Homo sapiens: one gene and its partner. The gene in region 1 interacts genetically with each later gene. Each region holds a gene or a part of one and is shown on either strand. Other genes may lie near its edges.

Region 1 (3,500 bases):
GTGATCCACCCACCTTGGCCTCCCAAAGTGCCGGGATTACAGGTATGAGCCACTGCGCTTGGCCCAAACTGAAGAGATTTTTAAAGCAATACCATAAAATGAAGAGATTTTTAAAGCAATTTATCTCATGAAGGACTAATCTGCTGACTTCACGTTCTCATGATTATCATTAAAGTCAACATTATCACCCCCTGCTTTTTTTTTTTTTAAGAGATGGGGTTTCACTATGTTGTCCAGGCTGGTTATGAACTCCTGGCCTCAAGTGATCCTCCTGCCTAAATTTCCTGAGTCATTAGGTATATACCCCATTTTATAAACAAGAAAAGCAAAATGTGAATAAGTAATTTACCTACAGACTTAAAGCAAATGAATAGCAGAACGAGGATTTGACCTCAGTTCTATACAACTCTTATTTTACACCAAAGTACCTTAGCTTGTTCTTCAGAGTGCTCATAACTGCCTAGACTCTTGCACCTAATTACCTACTCTCCGCCATTTCTTCCTTCTGATTCCATCATCCCAAATTTCCATCTCTCCAGTTCTTTGGTCCTCCAGGTCTCATGGTTTTTCTCATGCCCCTCAGCCCCTCTACTCACTTTTTCTGAAACCACAGACTTACCCAGTGACCGTAAATTAAGCTCTTCTGTGATCTTGGCCTCCCGGAGCAGTTCCTCCTGGGTTAGTGGCCGCTCACAGTGGGGCCCCTTTCGCCGTCTTGACTGGCCCTGCCTCTCCTGTACCCGAAGGAACGTTTGTCGTGTATGCTCAGCTGTAGACTGACGCATAGACTTCCGACCTGGAAGAGAGTGAGATAAGAAGAAATCTTTGAATTCATGTCCACATATTTTATTTATTTATTTTGAAATGTTGTACTTGGAAATAATTTTTTTTTCTTTTTTTTTTTTTGAGATGGAATCTCGCTCTGTCGCCCAGGCTGGAGTACAGTGGCACGATCTCGGCTCACTCCAACCTCTGCTTCCTGGGTTCAAACAATTCTCCTGCCTCAGACTCCCGAGTAGCTGGGAGTACAGGTGCATGCCACCACATCCAGCTAATTTTTTGTATTTTTAGTAGAGATGGGGTTTCATCATGTTAGCCAGGATGGTCTTGAACTACTGACCTCGTGATCTGCCTGCCTCGGCCTCCCAAAATGCTGGGATTACAGGCATGAGCAACCGTGCCTGGCCTGAAATAATTTCAAACCTACGAAGTTGCAAGAATAGTACAAGGAATACTCATGTATCTTTTACCCCATCACCTATTGGTAATATTTTGGCCCTTTTGCATTTTGTTATGTGTGGTTTTTTTCTGAATGATCTAAATTAGGTAACTAAAGTTGTACACATCATGGCCTTTATCCCTAAATATTTCAGTGTGTATTTCCTAAGAATGAGGATTTTCCTACCCATAGTAAGTTATCAACATCAGTAAATTTTTTCTTCTTTTTATTACTTTTTTCTGGTGACAGAGTTTTGCTCTTGTTGCCCAGGCTGGAGTGCAATGGTGTAACCTCCACCTCCCAGGTTCAAGCAATTCTCCTGCCTCAGCCTCCCAAGTAGCTGGGATTACAGGGGCCCACCACCACACCTGGTTAATTTTTGTATTTTTAGTAGAGACGGAATTTCACCATGTTGGCCAGGCTGGTATCGAACTCCTGACCTCAGGTGATCTACCCGCCTAGGCCTCCCAAAGTGCTGGGATTCTAGGAGTGAGCCACCGCACCCAGCAACATCAGTAAATTTAACACTGATATGATACTTTATTATTATATTCCAATTTTGCCAATTGACCCTAACATCCCTACTCACTGTCAGAGCCGTCATCTTGTAGTTCTAATGGCAGTAGTGCCTTCTCTTCTCGCGCCTTCTGAGAGCTACCAGCCGGGGTGTTGACCTTTCGAGGCCTTAAGCTCTTGAGAGGTTCCTGAGGACAGATTGGAATCAGATACTGGGGAACAGAAGAAGTCAGGAGAAATATGAGGATCTCAATGAGAGAAAACTAGCATTGCCAGAAATGGAAGTGGCATAGGGAGTACTGGGACCTGATGAAAGAGAGAATAGGAATTGAGGAAATCCAAGACAACTAGGACTCCCCCTGTACCTTATAGGCCTTGGTGACTACTCGGCGCTTCCTTCTTGGCTCTTCTGCTTCTCCATCACTGGATGGTTCATCCCCTTCATCAATGTCAAAGTCAGAGTCCACTTCGTCCTCTGTGTCTGACTGGTCCCCTTGATACTCATCATCTCCGGATTCCTAAGGACACAGGGAGATAAGGGTTGGCTGGCAATGGAAGCCTTAATGCCCCTTCAGGAGGAACAGAATCTCTCGACTTTCTTGATAAGGGCTGCCCTACTCTCCTTCCTAATCCAGCCCTTCATTTTCCTCAGGCAAGAAAACTTTCTAGCTAATGGCCTTTGGCTCCAGTACCACCTCCTTCCAACATTAATTGATAGCCCTTTACCTGCAACACACTGTTAAGTACTGGGGAACAAAAGGATATGGTTTGGTCTCTACCTTCAGGGGCTTACAGTAAAGGGGAGGACATAATCTTACTTTTTTTTTTTTGAGATGTGGATCTCGAACAGGCTTGGTGGCTCACGCCTGTAATCCCAGCACTTTGGGAGGCCGAGGTGGGCAGATCACTTGAGGCCAGGAGTTCGAGACCAGCCTGGCCAACATGGTGAAACTCTGTCTCTACTAAAAATACAAAAATTAGCTGGGCATGGTGACGCACACCTGTAGTCCCAGCTACTTGGGAGGTTGAGGCAGGAGAACTGCTTGAACCCAGGAGGCATAGGTTGCAGTGAGCTGAGATAGTGCCACTGCACTCCAGCCTGGGCGACAGGGCGAGACACAGTCTCAAAAAGAAAAAAAAAAAAAAGGATGAAGAGGACTTAAACTATGATTGAAAACACTGTTAGTATTTAGACAGCCAAGAGGGAGGAAGGAATCATGGGCAGATGAAATAGCAGAAACAAAGGCACAGAAATGGTAATGTGTATAGCATGTTTATGGAATAAGGATTTAGATCTAAGTAAAACTTTTCTCTGTCAAGAAACCTTGTTAGCCAACTGCATTTGGCTCCAGCACTGCCTCCTTCCAACACTGATTGCACTGTAGGACTGTATGATTTGAAAAGAAGGTTGCATTCCATTTATGGAGAAACTTAAATGTCACACTAATAAACACGCTTTTAACCTGCAGGCCAGTGATTCTCAATCCCCTCCATCTCCTTATTTTCCCTACCATTGATAATCATTGTTGAGGTAAACTAAAGTTACTGAGAGAAATATGTGTCATTCCTCAGGCGTGTTGGGACAGAAAAACAGCTGAGTACTGCTACTATGGATAATGGAGGGCCACTGAAGATTTAGGGGAGGGGTAATGGTATGTACAATGGGTATTTCAGAAAGCTCTGGGGGCAGTTAGATGGCCTGGAGTAGAGAACGTGAAGTACAGCCTAGACCTCAGGTGAACTGGTTAGGGCTAGAATGGCAGCC
Region 2 (3,500 bases), on another chromosome or scaffold:
TAGGTGGGAGGTGGGTGAGGAAAGTAGAAATAGTTTGATCCTTGGGTGATGGCAGTACCCGAGCAGGTCTGGGAATAAGGAAGTATGAGGGAGACTTGGTACCCACTGCTTATGGTTTTACCAAAGGTCTTGGACAGGCTCTGGTGCCTGAGAGATGGCTGCTGCTCAGATATACTTGCAGGCAATTCTTAAATTAAGTGTTTATATGTTTCCTGCATTTCTAGTTTTATAGAGGTGTGTTCTTAATATTCTTTTCCTGTGTTATGAATTATTGTTTTGTATAATGCAATGAAATGAGTGGCTAGTTGTAAGTTCTTATTGTGAAAAAGTTTTATATTAAGCCCCACTCATTTCTCAATTATTATTTTCTTTCTGCTGCCTTTAAATCTAGAATATACATTGCTGCAGTTGGTTTCATGCTTTGCATCCACAAGTTTGTAATCATAAAAATATTTAAAATATGTGCTGGGGCCAGGCGTGGTGGCTAATGCCTGTAATCCCAGCAGTTTGGGAGGCCGAGGTGGGTGGATCACCTGAGGTCAGGAGTTCGAGACCAGCCTGGCCAACATGGTGAAACCTCTTCCCTACTAAAAATACAAAAATTAGCTGGGTGTAGTGGCGGGTGCCTGTAATCCCAGCTGCTCAGGAGGCTAAGGCAGGAGAATTGCTTGAACCCGGGAGGTGGAGTTTGCAGTGAGCCGAGATCACGTCAAGATCATGCCACTGCACTCCAGCCTGGGTGACAGAGTGAGACCCTGTCCTAAAATATATGTCTGGCACGGTGGCTCACACCTGTAATTCCAGCACTTCAGGAGGCGGAGGTGGGCGGATCACTTGAGGTCAGGAGTTAGACACCAGCCTGGCCAACATGGGGAAACCCCATCTCTACTAAAAATGCAAAAAATTAGCTGGCTGTGGTAGTGCACGCCTGTAGTCCCGGGAGGCTGAGGCACGAGAATCGCTTGAACCTGGGAGGTGGAGGTTGCAGTGAGCTGAGATCGCGCCACTGTATTCCAACCTGGGGGACAGAGTGAGACCTTGTCTCCAAAAAAACCCACCACCACCACCAATATATATATAATGTAATTTATAACATCCTGAACTAGAATCAGTACGCTACATAGTCTTGCAATTGGGGCACTCCCTAGGAACAAAACTTATGCCTAATTGGCTGATGTTTAAAGTCAGCTGTGGTGTGTGTGTGTGTGTGTGTGTGTGCACGCTCATGTAATTGGCAAACATTGTTTTGAAAAAAATTTTTAAGCATGAGTTTTAGAAAATATTTTGTGCTTGGAATTGGAAAGTATTTTTAGGCTATAACTAGTTTATTAACTTATATATACATATATTGTCTACTAAGTAATGTCTTTGTTGCACGTATTTTCCAGACAATGTCACTTTATTATTCAAGTTATACTGCTTGGCAGTGATGACCCTGATGGCTGCAGTCTATACCATAGCTTTAAGATACACAAGGACATCAGACAAAGAACTCTACTTTTCAACCACAGCCGTGTGTATCACAGAAGTTATAAAGTTATTGCTAAGTGTGGGAATTTTAGCTAAGTGAGTATAAATACTTATAGTGTGTTAAATTATTTTTCTACCTGGTGAGGGTATTTGTTAGAAAATTCAAGCTACATCTTTATATGTTTAATTGCTCTGGGTCAGTGTTTCTCAACTAGGGGTGATTTTGCCCCCCAGAAGATTTTTTAGTTGTCACAACTTGAGAGATGCTACTGGCATCTAGTGGGTGGAGACCAAGGATGCTGCTAAACATCCTGCAATCCCCATGACAGCCTCACAACAAAGATTTATCCAGCCCCAAATGTCAGTACTGCTGAGGTTGAAGAACGCTGCTGTAGAATAGAAGTTGGCAAACTATGTCTCATGGGCCAAATCCAGCTTGCTCCCTGGTTTTGGTGTAATGGAGACTGACTGGCTTGCAAAGCCTAAAATATTTACTGTTTGGCCCTTACAGAAAACAATTATTGACTTGTGTTTTGGATGAATATAATAATAATAACATTTCTTGAGTGTTTCCTATGTTAAGTGCTAGGCACTGTGCTATGTGTTTTTTGTGTTTTCTCATTTACTTCTTCCACATTTTCAAGGTAAGTACTTTACCCCTGTTTTATTGACGCAGCATCTGAGGTTCCTTAAGATTACACTGTTAATATGTGGCAGCACCGGGCTTTGAATCAAAAACATCATGCAAGAATTGTTTAGCTAAGGATGTGGTATAAGAGAGGGTTAAGAATTAGGGGCATTGGAGGAGATAGACCTAATTTTAATCCTAGACTGAGATTGTGGCTGCATACACACTTGTAACCTCTTTAAGCTTCAGTTTGTTCATTTTTTTAATTTGAGAAAATAATATGGGGTGCTGAAAATTAAATAAAATCTAATAGGTAAATTACCAGGGGAAAGATTTATGAGATGGGGACCTATAGGAGTCATTGGGGCAGTTAAGAAGTCATACAGGTTTCAAGATGTGTGTTGGTGAGTGAAGGGAAGCAGGGAGGAATAGTGTTGTGTGTAGGCTTTTATGTAGAAACAGACATTACATTTAAATATTGAAATGTTACACGACATTGTGATTGCTTCAGCTTCAGCAGTGTGTGATGAGACAGTTGATAATGCAACTGCAAGCATGGCTATCATTTTGGGAAAGATACCGAGTGAAAGTGTTGAAAATTGGTTCTAGATCTTGAAAAGGCTTATACTAATCCACTTGAAGTAGTTCGAATATGAAAAATATGTGTTATAAATAAAGTTTCAGTGCCACACACAAAAAAACAGCACTCGAATACAAAATTTTCTTTTTTTCTTCTCAGCAAGGCAGTTTTCCTTCTATAGAAGGGTGTGCCCTCACAGATGGAGCAATGGTGAGCGCACACCTGGACAAGGGAGGAAAAGGGGACTTATTCCTTATGCACGTGGCCTCTATGGCTCTGTCGTTCCCCTATTGGCTAGGGTTAGACTGCACAGGCTAAACTAATTCCAGTTGGCTAATTTAAAGAGAGTGATGGGATGAGTGGTTTGGCGGGAAAAATGGTTATGGCAGAGCAGGAAATCGGAATGAGTCAGGGTGGAGAGGGTAATCAGAAAAGGTTGCTTTACGAGGAAGTTAAATTTAAAAGTAGAAGGCAAAGAATTGAACATACTGACATACTGATTCTTCGAAGAGAAATTTAGAACTCATATCTAACAATCCCCTCCTCTTGCATTTTCCTTACACCTCTTTCTCTTCAAACTTCTTTAACATGCCTTGGCTTAGTTCTGCTCAATTTTCCGAAAGAAGAAGCTTCTCTGGATAAGGTGGAGGATAGTTAAGGGAGGTTTTAGTAAGTGCCATTTCTATGAGCACTTACTCTGCACCAACCCACAGATGCATGGTATGACACAGCACCCGACAAGAATAAGTACACCCATTACAGCTGTGAGGGAAGTAAGAATTGAGGCTGTTATTCCTTTCCATTTACCGAACCACTTTTCTA

Evidence for each region. A genetic interaction does not mean that the proteins touch.
Region 2: changes in VPS72 (region 1) and SLC35A1 together harm fitness more than expected from each alone (negative genetic interaction), as found in Homo sapiens cells (one large-scale study listed by BioGRID).

The regions. Positions count from the first base shown.
Region 1 is NC_000001.11:151,183,698-151,187,197, forward strand, and holds part of VPS72 (vacuolar protein sorting-associated protein 72 homolog), read right to left. Parts: intron 2,254-3,500; coding exon 2,101-2,253; intron 1,924-2,100; coding exon 1,809-1,923; intron 797-1,808; coding exon 620-796; intron 1-619. UniProt on the Homo sapiens protein: Deposition-and-exchange histone chaperone specific for H2AZ1, specifically chaperones H2AZ1 and deposits it into nucleosomes.
Region 2 is NC_000006.12:87,475,974-87,479,473, forward strand, and holds part of SLC35A1 (CMP-sialic acid transporter), read left to right. Parts: intron 1-1,388; coding exon 1,389-1,566; intron 1,567-3,500. UniProt on the Homo sapiens protein: Transports CMP-sialic acid from the cytosol into the Golgi apparatus, functioning as an antiporter that exchanges CMP-sialic acid for CMP. Binds both CMP-sialic acid and free CMP, but has higher affinity for free CMP.